2 separate regions of the Homo sapiens genome follow, and region 2 is linked to region 1. The links come from fine-mapping of genetic effects on gene expression. Tissue or cell type: whole blood. Region 1 holds a variant in brackets; the other region holds the start of a gene. All regions are shown on one strand. Distances are from middle to middle.

The links. PIP is the estimated chance that this variant, and not a neighbour inherited with it, causes the effect.
Region 2: it holds the start of RALB, and the variant in region 1 is fine-mapped to the expression of RALB in whole blood (INTERVAL, PIP above 0.99).

The regions. Positions count from the first base shown.
Region 1 is chr2:120,293,377-120,298,598 of GRCh38, forward strand. RALB (RAS like proto-oncogene B) reads left to right here. Exons shown (of 5, transcript NM_002881.3): 5 at 1-1,334. Among named protein-coding and RNA genes, the nearest start is that of RALB, 43 kb to the left of the region's middle. The variant G/C (reference allele first, on the strand shown) is at 2,292.
Region 2 is chr2:120,250,244-120,255,465 of GRCh38, forward strand. It overlaps RALB (RAS like proto-oncogene B), which reads left to right and starts at 2,609. Exons shown (of 5, transcript NM_002881.3): 1 at 2,609-2,737. RefSeq lists a silencer at 2,302-2,891 and an enhancer at 3,392-3,661.

The DNA of each region.
Region 1 (5,222 bases):
CAAACTTCTTTAAATGGGGAAAAATATTTGTGACTCTGTGGCTGGCAGAAGAAATAAGCCCATGCAAGTGGAAGGGCTGCTTTGTCAGGAGGTTGTGGAATTTCTTTCTTCTCCCCTTCTTCCCTCCCAAAAGCTTAGCTATGTATAAAGTGCCACAGATAGGAAACAGCTGTTAATTACAAAGAGAAAGAATTGTCATAGCATCTTATTTTGTTCCTAGTTTTATAACATTACCATCCTTCGTTTTGAACTACAGATGTTGTAGTGGGTTTTGGAGGAGGGAGTGGAGTAAGATGCCCTCCCACTTTTATCAGTTTAGTAGTAGTACTGAGAAAAATCCCTTCAGCTCTAAGAACACTGAAAAATCCACCGATTTTTTGGGTAAGCTTCTTGGCAATACCCTGTGGATCTGAAACAGCTAAAAAAATGAATTTGAATTGCGCCAGATAGGTCAATACCAAGCTTCTGATTCCTCCTCACATATGAAAAGTGAAAGTTGTGAGTTGTTTTCCTCTTATTTAAACATTGGCCTATTATAATCTGTGTTGGTTATTTTTCTCCTGTAAGCATCCTGATTTTTCTGTAGGAACTTTTCTTTGGCAGACCAAGTGAAGACTCAGGAATGGTGTGCATTATAAATGACACACATTGCCACTTGTGTAGATATTTTTAAGTTCTTTGGCTAAGTCCTCTCCTAACTGCCTGTCCTCTGGTTAGGCCCCTCCCTCTCCACTAGTGGTGAATGCATGTGTCTGTCTGATCAGCATCACTGCACACGGAGGTCTAGTGAGCCTCTTGCTAAGTGTCACACACACTCTTCCCAAAGACGTGATGAGTTAAAGTTGTATTCTGAAATCATGAAGCCAGAGCCTGTGCCAGACCTTCTGCTACCTCTCATAGAATTGCTCTGTAATTCTAAATTTAAAATTAGAAGTAGAGAGAGATAAGCCATCGCCCCTTTGCCTCTGAGAATTGGCTGCTGTTTCTAATATAATTATTTTCTAAGATAGCCAGATAGTTAGAAAAAGATTTTCATTGATGACATATCTTTAAACTTTCTTGCATCAGTATTCTAAATTGAGCAAACTGAAAGATTTTCATCAGGAAAGGAGCACTGTGGGAAGAGCCCAGTATTCACATTTTTTCCCCATTTTTCAGAAGCGACATTTCATATATAGGTGCCAAAAGTGAATCGGGGTGCGGAGAGTGGGAACCTTTTGAATTTATGATTGTCACAGAGATGGTAGAAATTATGATCTGACTGGAAAACAATCCTGTATCCCCTCCCAAAGAATCATGGGCTTTTTTTTTGAATAAAAAAGCAGACAAATAGACTTTCTCGGGATTTCAGCCTTTTTATTTTATCCTTTTGTCATACATGTGAAATGCAAGTACTGAAGGAATGGCCAGTTATTCATTATTCTTGTCAGGCGTTCTTCAATATCTGACAAACTATTTCAATTAATACTTGAGTTGAGGCAAATAAAATGGTAAGTATTAACCGTCCTTTAAACTTCATCTTTCCTCCATCTCTTCTTAAAATTTAAAAAGTTGATGGTAATGACACTCTTGAATTTTTGAAACAAGCTTTTTGTTTTCATCCTAGTTTGCCATCCATTTGATACCAGTTCTAGTCAAGAGTGGGTAAGTTTGAGCCGATCACAGTGGCTCACGCCTGTAATTCCAGCACTTTGAGAGGCTGAGGTGGGCAGATCACCTGAGGTCAGGAGTTCGTGACCAGCCTGAGGGAAACCCCATCTCTACTAAAAATATACAAAAATTAGCCGGGCATGGTGGCGGGCGCCTGTCATCCCACCTACTTGGGAGGCTGAGGCAGGAGAATCGCTTGAACCCCGGAGACAGAGGTTGCAGTGAGCCGAGGTTGCACCATTGCACTCCAGCCTGGGCAACAAGACTCTGTCTCCAAAAAAAAAAAAAAAAAAAAAAAGGTAAATTTGGAATATGTACAAATGAATTAAAGATGTTATGACTTGTTTCATGCTATAGAAATTATACTTGATATATTCTATTAGTATATTTCTAAAATTTAATTGGATAGCCATTAGAAATGGATCTTCTAACAAAATAACTTATGAGATTCTTAGCTATTGAAAAATAATGAAGCCATGCTGCTTATAGATTTGAAACACAGTCACTAAATGTTTAGATGTTATGTCCATAGCTTAGTGCTATTTTAAAAAATATTTATTTTAGAATTATTTGAGCACCTACTTGGTGTCGAGCTCTATTCTAGGTGCTGGGGATGTGGTGTTGAACAAGATAGGCAAGAT[G/C]TCCACTCTCCTGGAGCTTAAGCTTTAGTAAGGAAAGAGAAATGAAAACATCAGGATAACTGCTTTGATGAAAATTGGGTAATATGACAGAAAATGTCTCTAAGGTATAGAGCTGATTTAGATTGGGTGGCCAACAGGCTTCTCCGAGAGAGTGATGTGTAAACTGAGACTTGGTGACCAGAAGCAGCCAGCGCTGTGAGGAATGGGTGGGCTGGGTGCAGGAGCTTTCCAGACTAGGAGACAGTTAGTCCCAGGATCCTGGAGTGTTCAGGAAGAAACTAACAACCAGGATACGGCTGGAGTACAAGGGAGCAGAGCAGAGTATTAGAAATAGATGTAACAATCTGATTTCATCAAATAATGTGGGGAAAAGTATGTTGACATAATTTTCTGCAAGTGCCCTATTAAATCTAAGGCACCCTGATTACAAGATAACATAAACAATTTATGTACCACTAGGAACCCTACCAATTAAATGAATTCATCTTGATTCCAATGACATAAAAATGTAGGAGAAAATGTGTCTTTTAGATTAGGTCAATTTTGGCATATAATTTAAATGACAACTGAAATACAAAACTCACCTCTGTTGGTCTATGAGCTACTTTCTAATAAAGCACCATAGAAGCTTAACAGTGTTTGAAAAGTACTAATATGTTAATGTTATAGCAGTAAACTTGACCTCGATATTTTCATTTTAAAAGTTTATTATTATTACTATTTTTTGAGATGGAGTCTCGCTCTGTCGCCCAGACTGGAGTGCAGTGGCACGATCTCAGCTCACTGCAAGCTCCGCCTCCTGGGTTCATGCCATTCTCCCGCCTCAGCCTCCCAAGTAGCTGGGAGTACAGGTGCCCGCCACCATGCCTGGCTAATTTTGTTTTTGTATTTTTTTTTAGTAGAGACGGGGTTTCACTGTGTTAGCCAGGATGGTCTTGATCTCCTGACCTCATGATCCGCCTGCCTTGGCCTCCAGAAGTTCTGGGATTACAGGCATGAGCCACCACGCCTGGCCAAAATTATTATTTTATGTTTGTTTGAGATGGAGTTTTGCTCTTGTTGCCAAGGCTGGAGTGCAATGGTGTGATCTTGGCTCACTGCAACCTCTGCCTCCCGGGTTCAAGCAGTTCTCCTGCCACAGCCTCCCAAGTAGCTGGGATTACAGGCATGCGCCACCACACCTGGCTAATTTTGTATTTTTAGTAGAGGCAGGGTTTCACCATGTTGGTCAGGCTGGTCTCGAACTCCTGACCTCAGGTGATCCGCCTACCTTGGCCTCCCAAAGTGCCAGGATTACAGGCATGAGCCACCACACCCGGCCTAAAATTATGTTATCAAAATTCTAACTGCATGGGCTTTAAAGTCCAGTGGCCTGGAAGTTGTTGTGATGGAAGGTCTTCAGTTTCACTCTTCCCTGCTCCAGCTTCAAAGCTCACATCTAACCCTTCCTACTCTCAGCTCATTCATTGGGTACTCCTGTATTTCTAAATAATCATCTTATGCCATTATTTCTTTTCAACCTCAGACCTTTCCAGTAAGGATTTGACATAACAGACAAGGATTTAGCTCACCTGTTCCCCTCACCCCCAGTTATGACCGTCAGCAGTAATTTCAGTTTTAATTCGTTTCTTGGTGACTGCTATACCTTTAAAACTGTATATTTAAACTTCTGTTTTCTTATTTGGTCAACTCTCAAAAGCGCTGTGTGGTTCTCCACTTGGAAGGGTGAGGGTGTGAGCAGTCCTGCCACCATCTCTTGACCCTGTCTCCTTCCCAGCTCTTGTCAGTTCTTTCTTCTTTATTTACATTATCAGGATGGATGACATGGACATTCCATTCTGTGAGCATAATTCAGGCGTTGGTGCTTCTCTGTACATTAATTCTGAAAGTTGAACACCAATCGCAGATGATACGGTTATTCTCACTTATGTGAACCTGGCTCACTGTCGAGCTGAGCACCATGCAGCAATCATGTCTTTTACCGTGCCGTGCAGGCTGCCACTTGAAGGAGCATTCCTAGTGTCTGGTCCAGCGGACTGTTGTCAGCTGCCTGGATCACGCCATGTGTGGGCTTCAGCTTTGGTTATTTCCTATGCAGTGCCCCTTCACCCCCTCGCCATTTTTCCTGATGTTGGGTTGCTTTTTTTCTTGAGAGAACACTCATGTGCTCTCTTCCCCCTCATGCCAGTTTCTTCCTCTATCGCTTGGAATCTGCTTCCATTCTTCTGAAGATTATTCTGCTTAGAGCTCATGGATCGCGCGATCTCATTTGGACTGGTTACTTTGTAGGAGGTGAGATTTGTATTGGACACTTGGATCAGTTCCACACTTTTCTGAATTTCACGTCTTCCTTTCTTGGTTTTCATCCTCGTTTTGCTGGAGTGCATTTTCGGGAAGGACGTGATGGAGAGCTTTCAGAGCCCCTCGGCATGTATGACAGTATGGGTACTTTTGCCCTTTATTTGATTGCTAGTTCAGCTTGGAGTAAAATTCTGGGTTCAAAATTGTTTTCCCTGGGAATGTGGAAGGCTTGGCTCAGAGTTCAGGAGGGTGCATCATCACTGATCAAATTGGTGCAGCCCTCCCTGGTTGTCCCTTTGCAGTGGGGGCCCTGGCTTTTCCCTCTCTCCCGTTATCGGGGCCTTCTCCTTATCTGCAGGGTCTGAAATGAACACAGCTGTGGATCTTAAGTGTGGCTGTTTTGTGACTCATCCTGCTTGGTAGTCGGCAGAGGCTTCCAATGAAGACTCCTGCCTCTTCAGCTCTAGAAAAAGTATTTTTGAAATTCTTTGATCGCTTCTGTTTTCTCCTTCCAGAGCTCCTGTTACCACCTTTGGAACCTCCTAGATTCATGTCTGCTCCATCCATTTCCTATATTTTCCATCTTTATTTTCTCTCAAATTTATCCTCCCTCCCTGTGTTTTTCCAAGC
Region 2 (5,222 bases), 43 kb before region 1:
TAAGGGCTTATTTCTCAGTCATTCTAAATGTCCATCACAGGTTGGTAGGGGGCCTGTGCTCATTGTAGAAACCCTGGCTGATGGAGCAGTCACATTTCCTAACATTCTCAGTAGCCATACCAAGGACAAGAGAGCTCTGGAGGGTCTTATATTGGCAATTAATTTCTCCAGCCTAGAAATGATTATGTGTCATTTCTGCTCACAAGTGATCGGTTAGAGCTAGTCACATGGCTCCACCCAACTACAGGGCTAGGAAGTTTCCAGTGCTCACAAGAGAGGAGTAGAAATGTTTGTCAGACAGCACTAAAGACTCCCACAGTAATCAATAAATACTTTAGAAGGATGGAGTGTCTAGAATGCTCTTTCCATGGCAGCAGTCGTTTACAGCATCCTTAAGGAGTCCTGCTGGGGATCTTGTATTTCTGCTGCTCAAGCCCCTGGCTCTGCTGGGAGTCAGAGTTCTGGTAGGGAAACTCAGCAGACAAGAGGTCCCCTGAGACCTGGAATGAGCCACCTTAGAGGCAGCTGAGGCTGGTGGCCTCTTGGTTCCCTTCTCCCGTTGGGACACGTTTCCCCTATTGGTGTCCTGTGTGAGACAGCCCCGCCAAAAGGGTCCTGCCACTCCTCTCTGAATATACTGCACAGCTCAGGGTCTGGCATGTCCAGGATCTGAATAGATGATCCTGCTGGAGGAGTCCCAGTAGGACCCCTCCGAGTTCTAGGCAGGCAGAGAATGAAAGCAGCATTTCTCAGAAAGCCCTGTGCATCCTGTTACCAATGCAAAGGAATGGCACTTCAGCACCCCAGAAAAGGTGGGGAAACCTCCTGCATCTGCTGTGGGTCCTAGGGGATGGGGGGCAGGTGGGAACAGTAGAATCCTGGCCTGTGGCCTGATTTCTGACCCTGTTCCCTCAACTATCATACCCTTTTCACTTGGGTAGGCTGCTGCAGCTGCTCTCCTCTCTATACTTGCATTTGACAAAGGGTACCACCACAGCAGGCCCTTTCCACCAGGCTGCACGCGGTCACACTTGATACAGATGGGCTTTGGGAGATAAGGCTGTACCAGATTGGTGATCACACACTTGACTGTACATCGTGGCCTCTGGTGGCAATCACTAATGTAAGCTCACATTCCTGAGGCACTCACCAAGTTCCTAGCACTGTACTGAGAGCTCTATGTGGACTTGCATGTACATCTTCTTACCTATAGCATGGAGGTGCTGCTATTGGGCAGCTGGTGAAACTAAAGCCCACAGAAGTAGTTTCCTAATTAAGTAACTGCTAGTCACAAGGTAGAGCCCTCCTTTAATCCTATGCTTCCAGACTCCAAACCTGTGCACTTAACTGTTACTCCGTAAGAAAAGGTTTGGGTCTGATTCCTCTTCTAGGTTATAAATACTAGGGAGCTTCCTCTTTGAGAAGCCTCCTACCCCATCTCCTTACTGTACCTAGCAAAGTGTCTGTCATACGATTAGCACTCAATAAAAGTTTTAAATGTGAATGAGAATGGTAAAAACAGAATACTTAGTAGGCTAACACTAGGATATTCTTCTGATTGCACTTTTTTGTTAAGTTGGTCACTTAAGACTAAGGTAAAGCTTCTGTGCTTTTTGATATAGATGCTGATGGAGGGACTGGATCTGGTAGATACATAGCAATCTAATCATGGCCCAAAGCCTCCAATATAGTATACACATGCATCCTAACTTACAATGATCAACAATGAAAGAATTAATTACACTGTGCTAGCAGCCATGGATATCACATTGCATAAGAGATAGTTCCCTCCCTTAGAGATAAGAGGCAGACGTTTAAACTGTCAGTTGCGATGGCTTGTGACTCTCATGAGGTCTGCGTAGGGGTCAGCACGGTCACAAAACCTGTGGAGGAGGAGGTGGTTAGGAAGGAAAATCCACCGAGATGAAGCTGTACTGGATACAAAATCACACGTTCCTGGGCTTTGGCAGGGAGCTTGCCCACTGCACTTCCTGCCTCGAGGCTATGGCTGGGGTGGGATTCTGGCCCTTGTAGGCGGCCTGGGTCCAGTCTCCGCCATGCACTCACTAACTCCATTACTGCTAATGGGATGTCATCAGCGAAGCGAGTGGTGGCGGCAGGTGGAGTCCCGCCCCAAGACCCCCGGGCGGCATCCCCATCGCCGCGCTCCAGCACTCTTCGCCACCTCGTAATTTTCTTCTGTTTCTGTATGATCAGGTCTGTCCTTCGCTTTTGCTTTCCATTACTTCGTCCTAGCCCTGGCCTGAATCCCACAACTGGCGCCCCACCTTGTGCACCCGCACCCGCCCTCAATACCGGCGGGCAGCTCCTCCACTGCCGCAGGGTTACCAGCTGCGTGTCCGAGGGGCAGAGAGAGAAACAGAGGGGGACGGGGCAGGCGCGCTGGGCCCGCCCCCCCGTGCCTGGGGCAGCTTCTCATTGGTGAAACCTCCTCCCCGGCCGCCCGCTGCTTGGAAAATCAGCCTCGGATTGGCTGACAGCCCCCCGACGGGCGTGGCTTCCGAGGAGAGGGCAAGAACGGAAGCGAGGGCGCGCTCTCGAGAGGAGGGGTTGCCTAGGCGACGCCGGAGGCGCGCTCGGGGGGTGGGAAAGCGAGCCCGGCAGCTCAATGACAAATCGGTGGAGGACGGCTGGGGTCCGGCCCCGGGAGGGGGCGGGGCGCGTTTAAGAGCTGCGGGCCGGGTGCGGACGGCGGAGGCGGCGGGACTGGTCCCTGGTAAGGGCGCGGCGCCCGCGGGCCCCGGGCGGGGTGGGGCGCGGGCTGGGGAGTGGGGTACGCCGCACGCCCGCAGCCTCTTGCTCCCTCCGTGCCGGGCTGTGGCCGGGCGGCGGCAGGACATGTCGCGCCCCGAGGCCGGCGGAGGGCGACGCCCCGGCAGCGGCCCCGCTCCGCTCCGGGAGGACTCCCTGGGGGAGTCTCGGCTTCCTGGGCTGCCTGGGGCTGAGGAAGTGGGGGCGGCCTCCGCCTCTCCCTTGTAGCCGCGGTTCCTTCCCTATCCCGCAGATGGCTCTGCTTCCACTTCCTGCCGCGGGCCTCCCGCTCGGGACCGTCCACTTCCTCAGTCCTCCGGCCGCGGCTTGGGCAGGGTCAGGGCTGGGAAGTGTTGCAAAAACTTAACTGCCCTCGGAACTTGCACGCGCCGTGAACTGGGCGGTGTTCCTAAAGGGCTTCGGTTTGCTGGTTTTGTTTTGGTCCTGTCTTGCAAATGAGCATAAAGTTGTTTCTCCCCCAGCCTCCTCCCCTTTCCTTTCTGATAGGGGCCAGCGGCGAAGGGGCTTCTAAGGGGAAGCGCCTGGACTGGGCATCGCCGTCCCGGTTCTTGCCGCCTGTGGGAGTGTGAGGTTAACCGTGCTCGGTGCAGGGTTGCGGGGCGCGGAGCTTGCTGCGTCCACACTGCTTGTGTGAGCAGTGTCCTCTCTGTGCTCATTTCCAACGAGAAACGTTGGAACTTTGGTGTTCTTATCAGGTGAGTCTTCGGGAGAGAAGTGCTTGTGCCTGGCGGACTGAATGAATTGGCCGTGGAAGAGACTTGGCTGATTGCTCATCTGGGTTACCTGTGACTCATCTTCAGCCCTTGTAGAACAGTGCACTTTCTGCTCTGTCCTGGTTTCCTAACCTCATTTCTTCTGAAGTTTTGGGGATGGATGGTGGGCATGGAGTATCAGAGGGGATAGTGAATCTTTTAGAGGTGTCAATGACTGATGTTCCAAGCAGAGCCATAAGATTGTTGGATGTCAAAGCTCAGAACCGGTCAAGGCTCAGAATGCTCCTTAAACCTGGAGCAATAGAAGCACAGTATCGAAGTTCCCAGAAATGGGCCGACCATGAAAGGTAGCACTGCATATTGGGAAAAACAGGAGGGGTGAGTTTGAAGACCTGGGTTTGATGCAGGTTCTGAGAGTTTACCGGTGTTGTGATGTGGAGCACGATCTTTCCCCCTCTGAGCTCCAGAGTCAGCAACTGTAGAAGGGTGATGATAGTTATCCTAATTGTTAGGATTAAACGAAATAGGAGCGGGGGAGAAGAAGGCCAGGGAGACATATCCTTTGTGCGTGGCTTTAGTTGTCAGCCGGTCTGCTTTATTCTGACCACATCTGGGGCTTTCCTTCCTTGCCCATTCACATTGCTTCCCATTGGAAACAGCACTCTTATCGGAGATCTCAGCCAGATTTCCCTCTGCCCGAGGAATAGAACATTTTCCCAGGATTGTGTGTGGAAAATAGTGTAAGTTATTAGATATCTTTTGGGAACTTGGGACCTAGACCATAAGGATAAACAGGATTTAGAGTCTTCCACGGCATATGAAGAGATTTTGGTAGAAGATGAGGGTAGAAAAGTTCTAAATTCTTGCCTTGACTGAAGATGGCTTGAGATTCCATGAAAAATTTTAAGCCTGAGAATTGAGATAATCCTTTTTTTGTTTGTTTTTGGGGGCAGAGTCTTGCGCTATTTCCCAGGCTGGAGTGGAGTGGTGTGATCACCGCTCACTGCAGCCCCCACCTCCCAGGCTCAGGTGAGTCTCCCACCTCAGCCTCCCGAGTAGCTTGGTACAGTCTTGCACCACCATGCCAAGCTAATTTTTGTATTTTTTGTAGAGATGGGGTTTCACCATGTTGCCCAGGCTGGTCTCGAACTGCTGGGCTCAAGCCATCCTACCACCTTGGCCTCTCAAAGTGCTGGGGATCACAGGTGTGAGCCACCCCGTCTGGCAGGGATAATTCTTTCTTCCAAATCACGTAATCCTACTATGCCTCTTTGCATTTAGTTGCTAAATTCTTACCCCCCTCATGTAACTTATGGAAGTTAGAAACATCATTAGAGACCTTTCTTGAAAGCTAAATTTGGAGACAATGTAAGACTAGAGTGCGAAGAGATCTAGGTGAACTCTGTAGTTTTCCAGTGTAACTTGTCTCCAGATGGTATACAGGAGTCCCACTTTTCCTTGGCTCCAGTTACTGCTAAACAGCCCCTGCTCTAGACATGCAAGACGCTTGGTTTTTTTTTCGTTTTGTTTTTTTAAATGAATGTATGTTCTGAATGTTATCGCAAAGAGAGCCGAGCACAGAGGAAAAGGAACTCTTCCTTCATCACATGGCGGAGTAGTTAAGGAGGAGAAAAACTAACAGTTACTGAGCATCAGCTGTCTGCTTGGCACAGACCACTGATCCAAGCCATACCAGTTAAATATGTGGCCTTGGAG